3 linked regions of the Homo sapiens genome follow. The protein of the gene in region 1 binds, or shares a complex with, the protein of each later gene. Each region holds a gene or a part of one and is shown in the gene's direction. Other genes may lie near its edges.

The links.
Region 2: PIGH (region 1) and PIGA share a complex: the UniProt entries of both Homo sapiens proteins name them as parts of the glycosylphosphatidylinositol-N-acetylglucosaminyltransferase (GPI-GnT) complex.
Region 3: PIGH (region 1) and DPM2 share a complex: the UniProt entries of both Homo sapiens proteins name them as parts of the glycosylphosphatidylinositol-N-acetylglucosaminyltransferase (GPI-GnT) complex.

Annotation. Positions count from the first base shown.
Region 1 is NC_000014.9:67,593,618-67,597,339, reverse strand, and holds part of PIGH (phosphatidylinositol N-acetylglucosaminyltransferase subunit H), read left to right. Parts: intron 1-3,387; coding exon 3,388-3,597; intron 3,598-3,722. UniProt on the Homo sapiens protein: Part of the glycosylphosphatidylinositol-N-acetylglucosaminyltransferase (GPI-GnT) complex that catalyzes the transfer of N-acetylglucosamine from UDP-N-acetylglucosamine to phosphatidylinositol and participates in the first step of GPI biosynthesis.
Region 2 is NC_000023.11:15,322,099-15,325,604, reverse strand, and holds part of PIGA (phosphatidylinositol N-acetylglucosaminyltransferase subunit A), read left to right. Parts: intron 1-452; coding exon 453-585; intron 586-733; coding exon 734-940; intron 941-3,506. UniProt on the Homo sapiens protein: Catalytic subunit of the glycosylphosphatidylinositol-N-acetylglucosaminyltransferase (GPI-GnT) complex that catalyzes the transfer of N-acetylglucosamine from UDP-N-acetylglucosamine to phosphatidylinositol and participates in the first step of GPI biosynthesis.
Region 3 is NC_000009.12:127,935,055-127,939,343, reverse strand, and holds DPM2 (dolichol phosphate-mannose biosynthesis regulatory protein), read left to right. Parts: upstream 1-1,489; 5' UTR 1,490-1,523; coding exon 1,524-1,526; intron 1,527-1,820; coding exon 1,821-1,910; intron 1,911-2,033; coding exon of another isoform or gene 2,034-2,129; exon of another isoform or gene 2,130-2,527; intron 2,528-2,565; exon of another isoform or gene 2,566-2,688; coding exon 2,689-2,791; intron 2,792-3,563; coding exon 3,564-3,622; 3' UTR 3,623-4,245; downstream 4,246-4,289. UniProt on the Homo sapiens protein: Regulates the biosynthesis of dolichol phosphate-mannose. Regulatory subunit of the dolichol-phosphate mannose (DPM) synthase complex; essential for the ER localization and stable expression of DPM1.

The DNA of each region.
Region 1 (3,722 bases):
CACCTGGCTAATTTTTGTATTTTTTGTAGAGACAGGGTCTCACTAGGTTGCCCAGGCTGGTCTTGAACTCCTGGCCTCAAGCGATCCCCCCATGTTGGCCTCCCAAAGTGTTGGGATTATAGGCATGAGCCACCATGCCTGGCCCAAACATTTTCATTAAAAGACTAGATAGTAAATATAGCAGGTTCTGTGGGGTCTGTCTCATAATATTCTTTTCTTTCTTTCTACAACCCTGTAAAAACTTAAAAATCATTCTTTGCTTGAGATGGGCCAGACAAAACCAGACCACAGGCCCAAATAGTTTACAGATCCCTGATCTAACACTATGGGTTAACTATGAAAAAGTAGAAAGAGACCATCAAAGAAAACCAGAGCTAGTGAGTAGTTGAAGTGGTACAAAAACCAGATGTTATTCAGGAACTATTACAGTAGGGGAAAAGAGACTTCAGTATAGACTTCCAAATTTCCTCAGTTCCGAATATAGCATGGACAAGTGGAGATTTATAGCCAAGGAGCAAGGTGGGAGTCAGTGGATGGAAAATTACCCAAAGGAAACATCAGGGGCAAGGTGGGATTCTGGCTAAATTGACTTGACAGGATTCTTGCTGAAGGCATGCCAGGCTGATCAAATACCAAGGGTGGGAGTTCTTTCTAAACTGATTCAGCAAGATTCTTGCTACAATTGGGTGGGTAGTGCAGGCCCAACAAAGATGTCAAGGTCAGGGCCTAGACAGCTTAGAGGAACCTGACTAGAAGTAGATAAAGGAGGGCATCTTGTCAGTGCAAAGAATAATAAGACACTTCCTGCCCTCAAGGAATGCAGTCCAAAATTACAAAATTTCTTTGATTCTAGGTCATCAATAATTTTTTTCCTGTGCCAGTCTTCTAAATCATAGCTTTGCCGGGTGCGGTGGCTCACACCTGGAATCCCAGCACTTTGGGAGGCTGAGGCGGGTGGATTGCCTGAGGTCAGGAGTTCGAGACCAGCCAGGCCAACATAGTGAAACCCCATCTCTACTAAAAAAAAAAAAAAAAAAAAAAAAATTAGCTGGGCGTGGTGGCGGGTGCCTGTAATCCCAGCTACTAGGGAGGCTGAGGCAGGAGAATCACTTGAACCCGGGAGGTGGAGGTTGCAGTGAACCGAGATCACACCATTGCACTCCAGCCAGGGAAACGAGTGAAATTCTGTCTCGAATCAATGAATGAATGCAAGCTTCTGGGAAAAAAGATAAAACAATGCCACATGAAAGAAACACACACCAATAGGAAAACACATTTTAACTTCAGAAATGTTAAAGATTATACATTGGTCTTAGAATCAAGGGAATAAATAATAGACACCATTTTTTGAGCCCTTAACACATCACTTAGTCAACTGTAAGTAACACAGAACAACTAAAATAGCCTTAAGAGATAAGGACCTTTTATATTAACAAGAAGTCATAAGGTAGGAGGGCTCCAGAGTTCACGTGGAGACTCATTTGATTCCGGCTCTTGTCATCTTACTGCTGACACCCTTAGTGTGCCCTACTTGTCCTCCACCTGGTCCTCCAAGTGCAGAAACTGCACTTCCACCCTTAGCGTCCTCTAGTTGTCCTCTACTAGCTCTCCACTGGGTCTGGCAGAGGCCATAGTAGTTCCAGGTATCTAAACCTCATGATGAAGGGAACGTCTCTTCTGCAGATTTTTAAAGATAAACTCAAGTTTTCCAGAAGCCCCTCCAGCAGATCTCCCCTCACATTTCATTGGCCAGAGTTGTGTCACATGCCAATTTTTAAAGCAGTCATTGGCAGAAGGAGTGGGAACCAATCATGGTTCACTCACTGTTCAATTGGGGCTGGTGGGTGGCTGTTTATTAGGCAAGCCATAGTATCTGCTACACTGTGCTAAGCACTTTATAATTGTTCAGTCTATGATTTTGCACTATATACAGATGGTTCCCAACTTACGATGGTTTGACTTAGGATTTTTTTGACTTTAGGATGATGCGGAAACAATACAAAGTCAGTAGGAACGGTACTTCAAGTAGGAACGGTACTTCAAGTACCCATACAAACATTGTTTTTCACTTTAAGTATAGCATTGAATAAATTATATGAGATTTACCACACGTTACTGTAAAATCAGATTTTATGTTACATGATTTGCCCAACTGTAGGCTAATGTAAGTGTTCTTTTTTATTTTTTTTATTTTTATTTTTTTTAGACGGAGTCTCGCTCTGTCACCCAGGCTGGAGTGCAGTGGCGCGATCTCGGCTCACTGCAAGCTCCACCTCCTGGGTTCACGCCATTCTCCTGCCTCAGCCTCCCGAGTAGCTGGGACTACAGGTGCCTGCCACTACGCCCGGCTAACTTTTAGTATTTTTAGTAGAGACGGGGTTTCACCGTGGTCTCGATCTCCTGACCTCGTGATCCGCCCGCCTCGGCCTCCCAAAGTGCTGGGATTACAGGCGTGAGCCACCGCGCCCGGCCTAATGTAAGTGTTCTGAGCACGTTTAAGGTAGGCTAGGCTAAGCTCTGATGCTTGATAGGTATATTAAATGCATTTTTTAATTTTAATTTTTTATTTGAGTGCTAGAACTAAATATTAAATGCATTTTCATCTTATAATGGGTTTATCAGGACATAACTCCCTCCTGTATTCTGCTGAGGGAGTGTGAAAGGAAAAGATTTGGGGTCCTTTTTTTTTTTGAGATGTCTCACTCTGTCATCAGGCTGGAGTGCAGTGGTGCGATCTCGGCTCACTGCAACCTCCGCCTCCGCCTCCCAGGTTCAAGCGATTCTCCTGCCTCAGCCTCCAGAGTAGCTGGGACTAGAGGCACGTGCCAACACGCCCAGCTACTTTTTGTATTTTTAGTAGTGATGGGGTTTCACCATGTTGGCCAGGATGGTCTCGATCTCTTGACCTTGTGATCCACCTGCCTTGGCCTCCCAAAGTGCTAGGAGTACAGGCGTGAGCCACCTCACTCGGCTGGGTCCTTTCGATTTTTAGAGACAGTGTCTTATGCTGGTACCCAAGCTAGAGTGCAGTTCTATGATCATAGCTCACTGCAGCCTCGAACTCCTGGGCTCAAACGATCCTCCTGCCTCAGCCTCCCTAGTAGCTGGAATTACAGGTGCAAGCTACTGCGTTCAGCTGATTTAGGCCCTAAAGTTGGAATTTTGGAAGAAAAATTTCTGAGATTGCTGTGATGGACATTTTGCTGATGGAGGTTTCCCCTAGACCTATCCATTTGTTGTCTGGATCTGTTTCACTGTATACTTTCATAGCACCTTAGAACCCAAATAAAAGCAATTTCCTTTTCCTCCATGCATGTTCCCCTCATTGCCTGGAGTTGACTGGTACCACTTGGTAATCTTACTGTCTGTGTCTGGCTCTCTCTTCAGAACAGCATGATCCTCTCTGCTGCCATCTTCATCACCCTCTTAGGTCTGCTTGGTTATCTCCATTTTGTGAAGATTGATCAGGAGACTCTGTTAATCATTGATTCCCTTGGCATTCAGATGACTTCATCTTATGCTTCAGGCAAAGAAAGCACTACCTTCATAGAAATGGGCAAGGTCAAGGATATTGTCATCAATGAGGCCATTTACATGGTAAGTATTTAAAAGGTAAGTATTACAGGCCTCTCTGGAGGAGGTAGCCAGCCCATGGGATGTTCCCAGATTTAAACTAAAACCGTAAAAGTGAGACTTATATTTAAAAGGTAAATCTCTTTATT
Region 2 (3,506 bases), on another chromosome or scaffold:
GTGATTTAAGTAATAGGGCTCAAATCATGTAAATTGCTCTGCACATACAGATTTGGACAAGTCTCTTCCTCAGTAACTTACACAACACAAGGCTTGTACGTGTAAAGCATCAATTTTAATAAAAAGGCCATTTTCCTGTTTACAAATGGCACTTTAACATTAAATTATCAAAGTTTATTAATATTATTACATACAGACTAGTTTTGGAGAAGATAAAGTTTGATATGTGTAACAAAAGTTAGAAATAATGTTCGCTGTATGAGTTTTAACCCAACTGCTTTATAAGGCTGTTTCTATTAGATCAGTGTTTGGTGATACTAATCTTGAGGTGGAGAACATTAGCAGCAATAAGAATTTAAGTGTAATATAAATAGCAGACTTGGTTTATAAATTAAATTTCTTTTGTAGCATGAGTTTTCACTCCTTTCTTCCCCTCTCATTTAAAAAATCAGGGTGCGTCTTTTGGGAGCTTTAGAACACAAGGATGTTAGAAATGTCTTAGTTCAAGGACATATTTTTCTGAATACCTCCCTTACTGAAGCATTCTGCATGGCGATCGTGGAAGCAGCCAGTTGTGGTTTACAGGTAAAAAGCTTTGAGGGCATTCATGGTTGGGATTTCTGTGTATTTTGAAAAATAATGAGACACATTCCATAATAATGTTTTAACTGGTTTTGTTGATCTTCCTGAGGTATGATTATGGTGGAGTATGTGTTCTTTCTTTCTTTTTAAGGTTGTAAGTACCAGAGTTGGTGGAATTCCTGAGGTGCTTCCAGAAAACCTTATTATTTTATGTGAGCCTTCAGTAAAATCTTTGTGTGAAGGATTGGAAAAGGCTATTTTCCAACTGAAGTCAGGGACATTGCCAGCTCCAGAAAACATCCATAACATAGTAAAGACTTTCTACACCTGGAGGAATGTTGCAGAAAGAACTGAAAAGGTATGTCACATGCTGAGAAAAGATTGTGTCTGAACTCTTACTTGATGTTTCACGTACACATTTGCTTTTTCTTACATAGATGTTTACCATTTTTGTTCTATTGCTTAAGTTGATGAAATCTCTTCCAGGTGAAAAGAAACAGATTTTGGTACACACACCGGGCTAAGTGTCTGGTCAAATTATTGCGTTTGACATTTGAAAATAGCAGTAATACAGTCTAGCCCCCTCATTAAACTGGGCATAAAGAAGTTACAAAATTTTCTAAAAGTCACAATGAGTAGAGACAAGACGAGTATTAAATCTACTCTTAGATATTTTCTTGAAGCTGTTGATAATTCTAAAGCAAACATCTCTATTAGGAAATGCATGGTTTTGCTGATTGCAGCAACTTTATAACTTGTGAATATTTAATTCAGGCTACTTCCTAAACCTCTTGTAGCCCTTTTGCTAACTACTGTGATTTTCTCCAGGAAAAGGATTTTTGCATCTTTGGGCTGATTGAGAACATAGTAAGTTAGAATTCAAAATGTACGTGACAAACGTGGGAAAAATCACAAATAAAAAGCAGCAACAGAGAATTTCCAAAAGGACAGGTATAGGAAATAGATTAACACCCTTAGGTAGGAGATTACAGTTGTGGGAAATGCTTCCTGAATTTGAATTAGGGACTGCTTTCATTCTCAGTTTCATCCTTTACGTCCTTTTCATGATGTTCTCTGCCTCATGCCTCTTATTACCATGTAACAAGCTGAACAGAAACAACTCAGCTTCTTAGTATGTAGAAATTGTGAACCAGAAAGATAACCAGGTGGAACATGGAGAAGGTAGTAGTTTAGAGTAATGCTACCAACGTGATATTCAGTGGAGCAATGAGTTTTTAGCCTAGAGTAGATAGCAAGTTGGAGCTGAGGAGAATAGCTCTTTACTGTAAGGCTTTCTTACTTGGTTTGAATGATGAATTCCAGTATATAAGATGAACTCATATGTGAATGGAAGTTCTAAAAACTTATCTCTAAAAATTGTCTTATACATTTTCCATTGAAACATGAGATGTTTGCGACAGTCAAACATTTTTGACTGAAGCATTTTGAGACATTCTGACCTTCTACAAGTCTTGTACTATCTCTCCCATATGAAACATGGAAAGTTGGAGTCTAGTGCTTACCTGTTGGGAGTACATGTCAGAGTCCCCGGGCAGCCTTTTCAGACTCTCTCTACTCCATCTTGATGTCCCCCTGCCTCCCCAACCACTCCCTAGATTCCAGTGTTATCCTTTAGGAGCAGAGATAGAATTGGGGGTATAATTGGCAGGGATATTTGGTCAGACAGGTTATTTTGATGATACCATCCTGATCTCCACTCCCTTTGAGAACCATGGCACTGTTAAGTTGTGACTTGACCTTCTTCATTGACATCGTATAAACCCCAGAAGCCTGAGCCACTGTAGGTAATAAGTTAACAGGGAAAGAACTGTGGTGACGGTTTGTCAGCATATAGTAAAGGGGCTAATTGGGATTTTTTTGGTAACCACATTTTTCTTTTGGTTAAAGTAATAGTACAGCATCTGTATTTTTTTTAATTCTATGGTGATTTATAATACACTTTTAGAAAAAAGTAAATCCTTGCCTATAATGGATTGTCATCGCTAACATTCTCTTCATAATAGTAAATTGTTATTTTATCACTTAAAACTATAAGTAGATTAATTGACCTGAAATAAAGCTGGACAAAAAAGTCAGTTTGTAGTTACTCTTTTAACCCTATGACATTTTAATTCATTTCAACTCCTCCTTCTTAGTTTAACTGTGCTATTTAGGAAATCGATCATGAAATTAATTTGGAGTTCATGCTGTAAACATACTTCTTCAATTGCAATTCACCAGTCTCAGCATAATTCTCAACATAATTCTGATTAAAATGTTTGTATTCAGAATGTCCTCAGGGTAAAAGAGCTCGATGAAAACATGCCGTACCTTTCAAGGGCTGTTGACCTGTACAACATGCACTGCATGTTATAACTTCCTTGAGTTCAAAAGGAGACGGTTTAAAGGTCTAATATATGAGACTAAGCACAAGTAATACTCAAATTACAAAATATGAATGTTGGCCCATTTGATGTGTTCTGAACAAGTATGTTTAAAGATCTTCGTTTTTTGATATTTTAGAGCTTAGTACTTAGCAGTGTTTTAAAAAGCAAGCCACCTACTTGCTCAGCAAAAAACGTTATTTCATTTGCCAGCATTTGACCTATACTATCTACTGAAATTTCCCCCATCTCTTTATCTTCTTTTATTTGAAATCCATGAAATGCTTCTGCATGTCCTCACCATCCATGCTCAGCAACATGTACAGCCTCATGTGGCTGTTGAAAGAGGAGGCTCTGTGTTCCCAGAAGTATGCTAGATTGTAGCTCTCTGCTTGTGGTTGATGTCTGCCAGATGCCGGTGAGAGCATCTCAGCTTAGTCAAGGAATCTTCAAAGGCAAATCCTGCTTCAGTACTGCTGAAGTCACTGCTGAATTAAATATTGACCCTACAGTGGTGACCCCAAAAGCTGTTCAGACTTT
Region 3 (4,289 bases), on another chromosome or scaffold:
AGGCCTCCACATAACCCCTCAGGGAGGCCTGGAGTCCAGATGCTGTACTCCAGTATCTAAACAATCACTCAATCTTAAAGCTGACAGGTTCAAAGCTCTTACTTTGGGCCGAGCGCAGTGGCTTACGCCTGTAATCCAGGCACTTTCGGAGGCTGAGGTGGGTGGATCACCTGAGGTCAGGAGTTTGAGACCAACCTAGCCAACATGGTGAAAACCCATCTCTACTAAAAATACAAAAATTAGCTGGGCGTGTTGACACGTGCCTGTAATCCCAGCTACTCGGTAGGCTGAGGCAGAAGAATCGCTTGAACCCAGGAGGCAGAGGTTGCAGTGAGCTGAGATCATGCCACTGCACTCCAGCCTGGGTGACAGAGTGAGACTCCCGTCTTGGGAAAAAAAAAAAAAAACAAAAAAACCTCTTTCTTTGGGCCAAGCCTCCACTGAGTGCCAGGGATACAGCAGCAACCTCAGACCCTACCCTCGGGGCTGACAGGGCTGGATCAACAATTGCATCAGTGAATTAAAAGGCACAGGAGGCTGGGCACCGTGGCTCACGCCTGTAAACTTTTGGAGGCCGAGTTGGGAGGATCGCTTGAGCCCAGGAGTTCGACACCAGCCTGGATAACATAGAACTCCGTCTCAAAAACAAACAAACAAACAAAAAAAACGTTCCCGACTGGCTTCCCTGAGGAACGTGGCGTCCCAGTGAGACCGGATGGGTGAGGAGCAGCCGGCCTGTGAGTGGTGGGGGACCGCGTTCCTATCTCGGAGCTGAAGAAGCGTGGAAGATGATCTGGCCCAACATCTCTTTGTTCTCAGAGGAAGGGCCTTCCAAGACCGGGGAGGGGCCTGTGCGTGGGTCCCGGTCCGAAACGTGTCTGGGCTGCTGCGAGAGACAGTCGGTGAAGGAAGGGAGGGGACATCCGAAGGGTGGCCCGGGAGGCCGGGCGATGGTGAGGAGGGCGCCTCCTCTCCACCAAATCCTCCCCATCCATGCGGGCTAGGGACAGACCCTCCCCCGCCCACCCTAGGCTGGAAAGTGAACGTTCTCTGCACCTCTCCCACCTACAGACTAAGTAGGGCACCCGGTTTCCGTGTCGGCTTCACCACTGACTCGGAATGGGATCTACCTTTCTCTGAGCCTCACTTTTCCCATCTGAAAAATGGAACTTCCGATCCCGCACTCCCATCCCACTCTGGCCCCGGGACTCTGGGATACTTAGAGATTGGCTTTTGGTGGGGCGGCGACAGGACTGTGGCCATGAAGGCCAGGGAGTCTGGGTCCCCAACTCGGTCCCATTCCCTAGAGAGATTCGGGCAGCAACCGGCCCCACAATGCTCTTGAGAACTACACTTCGCCGATATGCAAAGAAGAGGAGGCGGTTCCTGCTCGTCTCCGACGAGGTGGGCCCGAGCAGGCCTGGGGACTACGACTCCCGGCGTGCTCCGCAGTCCAAAGCCGGAAGAGCGTGGACCCGGAACCGGATGTGGCTTGCGGCTCGGGTGGCTGAGCGCGCGGGGAAATGGTGAGATTGGCACCGTGTGCCGGAGATAGGGGCGTCTGGGGGTGGGGTCCCGGGTCTGCTCAGGAGCTGGGGCATGGGCACTTGGAACGGGGATTGCTCTCCCGCCCCCACTATTGTACGGACGACAACGCGGAGGCCTAGCATTCTCTCCCAGCCTAGAAACTGATCCCTAGTCAGCCCTCTACCATCTGTTGAATGGGAAGCTTAGACCGTGATCGGGCCGCGACGCCCCGCTTCCATTAGTGCGCCGAAATAGAGGGTCACTTCGTCAGCTGAGACCTCCCTTTTCTCCAGGCCACGGGGACAGACCAGGTGGTGGGACTCGGCCTCGTCGCCGTTAGCCTGATCATCTTCACCTACTACACCGCCTGGGTGATTCTCTTGGTATGTCATTCTCCCCGTCCGCTGCTCACCTTCCCCGAGCCCTGGCACCGCCAGAGCAACTACTATATAGGCTCTAGGCACGGCGCTGGCTTCATTGCCTGCCTCATCTCTTGAACTCTCCAGAACAACTCTATGAGGAAGATGCCAGTGGTACCGCATTTTATAGATGAGATAGCTGAGGCTAGGGGAGAAGGATCTGGCCCAAGATTGCATCCTTAGCCGCTACACTTATAACTCTGTTTCCGGCTTGCTTTGACTTTTGGGGGAGTTCTGTTCCTTCTGGGTTAGCCTGCTGACTCTTAGGCATGGCAAACGCCAGTGATATTTGTGAAGGCCTTTAGGATATTTTTTTCTTGTGGGAAAACTTGTTGGTTATTGCTTAAGAAGTGCAGTGTGTCTGGAAGTGCAGAACTTGGTATCCTTTAGAGAAAAAATATTAGTGAAGAAGCCCTGGAGGCCCAGGTTGGGAGTCAGTCGAGGATTCCTCAAGTACCATTTGCTAGGCTGTGAGGTGCCTTAGGGCAGGTCTCTTGTGCCCTGTTCTCTTGTCCCCACCACCAACCTATAGCAGGCACCAAAGCAAGTGCCCGGTAAATACCAATAAGAAATTAAGGAAAGAAACAAACCACGACACCCAAATGCCGTAATCTTAAAGAAAAGCAAATGCAGTCCCAGTCCTCTGAATGGGTCAGCCCCTTAGATGGAGGAGGTGGGACGTTTGGGCTTGGGGGCTCGGCAAGGCAAGCAAGACACACCAGAGCTCTTCCCTCGATGCCAGCCATTCATCGACAGTCAGCATGTCATCCACAAGTATTTCCTGCCCCGAGCCTATGCTGTCGCCATCCCACTGGCTGCAGGCCTCCTGCTGCTCCTGTTTGTGGGTAAGTCATCACCTCCTCCCCTTGACCCTGGGCAGGGTTTCGGGAAGACCCCACCTCTGAACATGCTTCCACACTTTGGCGGTGCTGGAAGCTGCTTGCCCCGAACTCACCCGTGGGGTTTTCCTGTTCATCCTTCGAGGCTGCCAGTCAGTAACCTCTGGGTTTCCTGGTGCCCCAGGCTTTTTGGACTCCAATGACCTGTCTACCTCTTTCCTGCCCCAACCCCATCATCACTCTGCTCACACCTCAGTCACCCTCTTGTCACCCTGGCTTCTAATTCCTGCACCTCTCTCTCTCATGGCTTCCTAGGGATGGGGACTGTGTCTCCATCATTACTGCACATCTAGAACAGGCTGTGGCACTGAGGCTGTGCTCAGAAAGTCATTTGGATGAGTCAGTCAACAGCCGGGTGCCTGGATGATGGGTGGATGGATGGGTGGGTGGGTGAGGTGTAGGAGGAGGTGGGTAGGTATGTAGGTGGACAGACAAGTGGTTGACCGGGTGATCGATAGATGGGTGGATCTTGTTCCCCTTGGAATCTGAAACACTAAATGCAGCATCTTGCTTGAGGCAGGCACTCAGTTGGTGTTTGTTGAGTGAATGTGAGTAGACATATGCCTTGACGAATGACTAGGGAGATAAGCAGGTTCCCTGGAGGATGGTTGGGTAGGTTCACAGCCCTGTGTGTGGGTGGCTCTGCTGTGTCATGCCCTGGCCTCCCAGCAGCCCTGAGCTTAGATCTTATGTGGCCTTTCTGGTCTGTGTATCCCAGGACTGTTCATCTCCTATGTGATGCTGAAGACCAAGAGAGTGACCAAGAAGGCTCAGTGAAGGTCCCGCAGGGATGAGGCTGCCAGCCCCTTCTCTGCTTCCCCTCCAGCACAGGGACCAAGTGGGGGAGCCTGCAGAACCTGTCCAGGCACAGTGGCTCCTCAAGCCTGCCTGTCCTGCAGAGTCCCCATGGCATGGAGCTTACACCTGACTGACTGGAGCCCCCTCCCCGACTCCCACTTCCAGAAGCTAGGAGGGAGGGATACCTGGAAGACTCCGGTCACCTCCTTCTTGCTCAGGGCCTAAAAGATGCTGGTCCTCCCAACCTCACTCTCAGACTCCCTGCCACCTTTTCCCCTGGGTTCTGCCGTCTTGCCTCACTTCCCCTCCTGTCACATGCTGACGTTGGACTTAGCAGGTTCTAAGGCCACATGTGTGACCTCTCTGACTTCTCTTCCTCCACCAAGGCAGCTTTCCTTACCCTGACACAGCCCCAGACCCCACAAAGCCTTCTGGACCTGGAAAGCCTGGGGAAGGACTGACAGACCCCAGGACCAGCCCTGGGGCTCAGGGCAGCCACCCCGGGCCGCTGACCGACTGACCTCTCCTCACGGAGGCCCAGCCCCAAAGCCCCAGGGCTGGCCCGTTTGGGACAGCTGACCAATAAACACTGATGGTGTGTTTGTCTCTGTGCCGTGTTTACCCAGGGTCGGGGCTGGAGCGGGCT